Linked DNA regions of Homo sapiens. The protein of the gene in region 1 purifies or fractionates together with the protein of each later gene. This does not show direct contact. Each region holds a gene or a part of one and is shown on either strand. Other genes may lie near its edges.

Region 1 (2,814 bases):
GAGACAGGGTCTTGCTCTGTTGTCCAGGCTGGAGTGCAGTGGCACAATCACAGCTCACTGTAACCTCAGACTCCTGGGCTCAAGTGATCCTCCCACCTCAGCCTCCTGAGTAGCTAGGACTACAGATGGACACCACCACATCCAGCTAATTTTTTTTTTTTTTTAGAGATGGGGTCTCGCTATGTTGCCCAGGGTAGTCTCAAACTCCTGGCCTCAAGTGATCCTCCCACCTCAACCTCCTGAAGCACTGGGATTACAGGTGTGAGCCACCATGTCAGCCACGAGCATTTTTTAAATGGCTGGGGGAGGGGGAACAATATTTCCTAACACAGAAAATTCAAATTCCAGTTTGTAAAGCTGAATTGGCACACAGCCATGCCCCTCATTTACATATTGTCCGAGGCTGCTTTTGCACTGCAGTGGCAGAATTGAGTCGTTGCATCGGAGACCACGTGGTCCACACAGCCTAAAATATTTACGATCTGGCCCTTTACAGAGAAAAGTTACCAACCTCTCCCTAGTCTAGAATGAAGGGTAAATTGCTCCCCATTCATGTTCCCTCAGGTACTCAGTTCCCCTCCTTAGAGGCCATCATTTTGACAAGACACTTGCAATGCCTTATGTAGGCAGAGGGGTATGTCTGCCCCACTCCTTTTCACACAATATGTAGGATATTATGCACACAGTTCTGCACCTTGCCTTTTTTCACTTAATATATTTTGGAGATAGTGTTATCATTAATGTTCACAAACCATTATTATTTTTTACAGCTGCATAGTGTTCCACCTTCAGGATGGAATGGACTTGACTTTTTTTTTTTTTTTTTTTTGAGACAAAGTCTTGCTCTATTACCTGGGCTAGAGTGCAGTGGTGCAATCCCAGCTCACTACAGCCTCTGCCTCCTGGGCTCAAGCTATCCTCTCTCAGCCTCCCATCCCAAGTAGTTGGGACTACAGGTGCATGCCACCATGCTGAGCTAATTTTTTTTTATTATTTTTAGAGACGGGGGTCTTGCTTTGTTGCCCAGACTCGTCTCAAACTCCTGTGCTCAAGCAATCCTCCTGCCTCAGACTCCCAAACTGCTGGGATTACAGGCTTGAACCACGAGTGTGTTTTAAATTTTGATAGTGCATACCAAATTGTCTTCCAGAGGCCATGCCGGTTTAAGTTCACAAGTTTTCAGAGTCCCTGTTTCCTCACACCCTTGCCAACACAGCGTGTTATCAAATGTTTTGTTCTTTGCCAATCTGATAGGTGGTTTTAATTTGCATTCCTCTTACTGTATTTCATTGATTCTAAGATGTCACTGATTCTAAGATGCATCCTGATTTCAGAAGTTCACATGTAAAAATGTGGCTGGGTGTGGTAGCTCACGCCTGTAATCCCAGCACTTTGGGCGGATCACGAGGTCAGGAATTCAAGACCAGCCTGGCCAACATAGTGAAACCCCGTCTCTACCAAAAATACAAAAGAAATAATTAGCTGGGTGTGGTGGCGGGTGCCTGTAATCCCAGCTACTTGGGAGGCTGAGGCAGGAGAATTGCTTGAACCCAGGAGGCGGAGGTTGCAGTGAACTGAGATCGCGCCACTGAACTCCAGCCTGGGCGACACAGCGAGACTCTGTCTCAAAAAAAAAACAAAAAAAAAGTAAAAACGTATAGCTTCAAATCACTGAAATACAATATGTTTTGTGAGATTGGGTATCTTACTGTGAGTTTAAAATGCATTTGCATTTCCTCATCTGTTCATGTCCTTTTCCTATTTTTCTTGGAAGGGAGGGTAGCATTGGTTAAGAGTGTAGGGTTCAAATCCCAGTTCTGCCACTTACAAGCTTGTGACTTTGGGCAAGTTACTTAACCGTTCTGTGTCTCAGTTTCCTCACCTGCAAAATGGGAATAATAATGGTACCTACCTCATAGGATAGGTGTGAAGATTAAATACATTATTATATGCAAAATACCATGTTCCTGGAATATGGCAAATGCTCAATAAATATTTGCTGTAACTGTCATCTTTGAGTTATTTTTTCTTAATGAGTTTCAAGGGCTCTTTATACGTTAAGGAAACATCCTTTTTGTCCCCCCACCTCCCTGCCCCAAACCCCAGTTTTCATTCCTTTTTCCTTGACCACAGAAGTAACATATAATACAAAATTAAGACATTACAAAAATTGTATCAGAAGAAGCCAATGGAAACAACTTAGATGTCCATTGATAGAGTGAGTTAATGAAGTACACCAAGACCCCCTGCCCACCCATCCCCACCGCTTTTTGACTGTATATTTCGGAAACTACATCAGACATTAAATAAGATGTCTCAGCGCCATGGCTAGACACACCTCAGGGAGCCATGACTCCACATAAATGCCATAGAATTTCACTAGCAAATGCATCACACATCCTGTTTGTTTGTTTGTTTGTTTGTTTGTTTGTTTTTAGATGGAGTTTCGCTTTGTTGCCCAACCTGGAGTGCAATGCTGCAGCAACCTCTGCCTCCCAGGTTCAAGTGATTCTCCTGCCTCAGCCTCCCGGGTAGCTGGGATTACAGGCATGAGCCACCATGCTCGGCTAATTTTTCTATTTTCAGTAGAGATGGGGTTTCACCATGTTGGCCAGGCTGGTCTCGAATTCCTGACCTCAGGTGATCCACCGGCCTTGGCCTCCCTAAGTGCTGGGATTACAGGTGTGAGCCACCATGCCCGGCCTCATCACACACTCTGTTAACCACACATCCCTTCTCCTCTCTGTCTTCTGCAAGTCCACAGTCCTTCCTGTCGACAGTTTGTCAGCTTTACTTTCTGCAGCTTATGCTACA
Region 2 (3,829 bases), on another chromosome or scaffold:
GCAAAAATAGTATGAGAGTTCTCATATCACTCACGCCCTGCATACCATTTCCCCTGTTATTAACATCTTGTATTCGTATGGTACCTTGATATAATTAATGAACCCATATTGACATTTTACTATAATGAAAGTGTGTAATTTATTCATATTTCCTTAGTTTTTACCTAATGTCCTTTTCCTGCTCCAGGATCCCGTCAGAATACCACATTGCATTTAATTGTTATATGTTCTTAGGCTCCTTTTTGCTGTGACAATTTCTTAGACCTTATTTTTGATGTCCTTGACAGTTTGGTGAGGGTATTGGTCAGGTATATTGCAGGATGTCACTAAGTTAGGATTTGTCTGCTGTTTTCCTCATAATTGGACTTGGGGTTATGGGTTTTTGGAGGAACATCGCAGAGGTAAACTGCCATTTTCATCACATCAAATCACATGACTTATGACTGTTGATGTTGACCTTGACCATCTAGTTGAAGTAGTGTTTGTCTGGTTTCTCTACTGAAAAGTTACTCTTCCTCCTATTTTCATACTGTACTCTTTGAAAGGAAGTCACTCTGTGCAGCCCACACTTAAGGTTGGGGGTTACTTATGTTCTTCCTCCTTGGAGGTGGAGTATCTACATAATTTTTTTAAGAATTCTTCTGCATGGGAGATTTATCTCTTTTCTCCCATTTATGACTTTATTCAATCATTGATATCAATAAGGACTCAAGGATATTTATTTTATACTTTGTGTTATAATGCAATACTACTTTATTTTTTCTCAAATTTTTCCAGCTTTGGCCACGGGGAGCTCATTCACTTGGCTCTTGTGTCACATTGACATACCCCAATCATTGTAAGATTTTGTTTTGTTTTATTATTTTATTTTTTGTTTTATTTAATTTTTGGCAAATTCATATCAAGAATTTTGTTTGATTTTAAGCACTTTTTACATTTTGGCACTATAAGATGCTCCAGACTCATCTTGTATATTTCCTCTCTTGTATATTTCCTGGTTCTAGTCCTAGAACCAACCAATACTCCAAGAAACCTTGGTTCCTTTTATTGGAAAGTGATCTTAGAAACCAAGACCTGGACAGTAAGTGTACTTTTTGCTGCTGAGGTATCATTGATTCTAGACCCTCTCAGCCAACAGAGCAAAGAAATACATGTATGCATACTAACCTCTGCATATACACATATCTACAAATATTTCTATGTGTAACCATCTGTACCTATATTACATTAAACATTTGTTCTTACTGATGTCTCCAACTTTAGTCCATCACCACATAGATCATTCTAGTTTCCTTCTCTTGCTCATCTGTAAACTCCCACTCCAACAGTGAGAAACCTGTACCCACCATCCTCTGTTTATTGAATTAATTATTAACCTGTACTCCGATAAGAAACAACTTTATCTACTAGAGTACAGTGCTTTTTGGCAATTCCTTTTTTTTTTTTTTTTGAGATTTTTTTTTTGAGACAGTCTTGCTCTGTTGCCCAGGCCGGAGTGCAGTGGTGTGACCTTGGCTTACTGCAACCTCCACCTCCCAGGTTTAAGCGATTCTCCTGCCTTAGCCTCCCAGGTAACTAGGATTACAGGTGCCCGCCACCACGCCTGGCTAATTTTTGTATTTTTAGTAGAGATGGGGTCTCACCATGTTGGCCAGGCTGGTCTTGAACTCCTGACCTCAGATGATCTGCCCACCTCAGCTTCCCAAAGTACTGGGATTACAGGCATGAACCACCATACCCAGCCCAGATTTTAGCCATTTTAATAAGTATATAGTGGTATCTCATTTGTTGTTTTAATTAGCAGTTCCCTAATGATATAATGTTGGACATCTTTTCATATTCTTACTTGCCATTCGTATGTCTTCTTTTTTTGTGTGTTCATTGGTTGTCCAGGCTGGAGTGCAGTGGTGTGATTACAGCTCACTTCCCAGGCTCAGGTGATTCTCCCAGGCTTCAGCCTCCCAAGTAGCTAGGACTACAGGTGCACATCACCATGCCTGGCTAATTTTTGTATTTTTTGTAGAGATAGGGTTTTGCTGTGTTGCCCAGGCTGGTCTTGAACTCCTGGGCTCAAATGATCTGCGTGTCTCGGCCTCCCAAAGTACTGGGAATTGTATGTCTTCTTTGATGAGATGTTTGTTCAGATTGTTTGCCTATTTTTTAACTGGGCTCATTTTTTAAATTGTTGTGTTTTAAGAGTCCTTTGTACATTCTGGATACAAGCCTTTATCAGATAGATGTCTCACAGATATTTTCTCACAGTCTGTGGCTTGTCTTTTCATTCTCTTAACAATGTCTTTTGTAGAGCAGAAGTTCTTAATTTTAAAAAGTCGAACTTACTACATTTTTCTTTCATGGATCATGCTCTTAACATTGTGTCCTAAAGCTCATCACCAAACCCAAGGCTACCTAGATTTTCTCCTGTGTTATCATCTAGAAGGTTTATAGTTTTACCATTGACATTTAGGTCTATGATGCAGTTTACTTTAATTTTTGTGAAAAGTGTAAGGTTTGTGTCTATATTCTATATGTATTTTTTTTTTTTTTGCATATGAACACCTAATTGTTCCAGCATCATTTGTTGAAAAGACTGTCCTTTCTCCATTGAATTGCCTTTGCTTCTTTGTCAAAGATCAGTTGAATATATTTGTGTGGGTCCATTTCTGGGCTTTCTATTCAGTTTCTTTTCTTTTTCTTTTTTTCTTTTAATACAGGCTGGAGTACAGTGACACAATCTTGGCTCACTGCAGCCTCTGCCTCCTGGGCCCTGGCAATCCTACCATCTCAGCTTTCCGAGTAGCTTGTGCTACAGGCTCGCGCCACCGCTCCCAGCCAATTTTTGTATTTTTGTAGAGATAGAGTTTCGCCGTGTAGCCCAGGCTGGTCTGGAACTTCTGAGCTCGAGTGATCTCCCCCGTCTCAGCCTCCCAAAGTGTTGGGATTATAGGTGTGAGCCACCACACCCTGCCCTATTCAGTTTCATTGATCTCCCTCTTCTTTCCCCAGTACCACACTATCTTGATTATTGTATTTTAGTAGTAAGTCTGGAAGTCAGGTAGTGTTAGTCCCTCATTTTTGTTGCCTTTCTTCAGTATAGTGTTAGCTATCTGGGTTTTTTCTTTCCATACAAATTTGAGAATCTGTTGATATCTGCAAAATGGCTTTCCGGGATTTTGACTGGGATTGCATTGAATCTAGAGATCAAGTTGGGAAAAATTGACATTTTTTTTTTTTTTTTGAGACAGAGTCTCGCTGTGTTGCCCAGGCTGGAGTGCAGTGGTACAATCTCAGCTCATTGCAACCTCTGCCTCCTGGGTTCAAGCAATTCTCCTACCTCAGCCTCCCGAGTAGCTGGGATTACGGGCATGCGCCACCACGCCTGGCTAATTTTTGTATTTTTAGTAGAGACGGGTCACCAAGTTGGCCAGGCTGGTCTCAAACACCTGACCTCAAATGATCCACCAGCTTCGGCCTCCCAAAGTGCTGGGATTACAGATGTGAGCCACCACACCTGGCCAATGGTATTATATTTTTAATTTCAAATTCCAGTTGCTCAATTGTTCATTCCTGTCAAATAATTGATTTTTGCTTATTAACTTTGTATCCTGCAACTTGCTTTAATCACTTATTCATTCTAGGGATTTTTTTGTTTTTGTTTTTGTTTTTGTTTTTGGCCAAGTCTTGAGATTTTTCTACATAAATCAGGCTGTCTGTTAAAAATACAGTTTTATTTCTTCCATTATTTTATTTTATTTTTTACAGAGGTGAGGTCTCACTATGTTGCCCAGGCTGGTTTTGAACTCCTGAGCTCAAGTGATCCCCCTGCCTT

Evidence for each region.
Region 2: the proteins of PEDS1 (region 1) and NCR3LG1 purify together in Homo sapiens (co-immunoprecipitation; one large-scale study listed by IntAct). This does not show direct contact.

Annotation. Positions count from the first base shown.
Region 1 is NC_000020.11:50,117,451-50,120,264, reverse strand, and holds the end of PEDS1 (plasmanylethanolamine desaturase 1), read left to right. Parts: 3' UTR 1-2,011; downstream 2,012-2,814. UniProt on the Homo sapiens protein: Plasmanylethanolamine desaturase involved in plasmalogen biogenesis in the endoplasmic reticulum membrane.
Region 2 is NC_000011.10:17,358,068-17,361,896, forward strand, and holds part of NCR3LG1 (natural cytotoxicity triggering receptor 3 ligand 1 precursor), read left to right. Parts: intron 1-3,829. UniProt on the Homo sapiens protein: Triggers NCR3-dependent natural killer cell activation.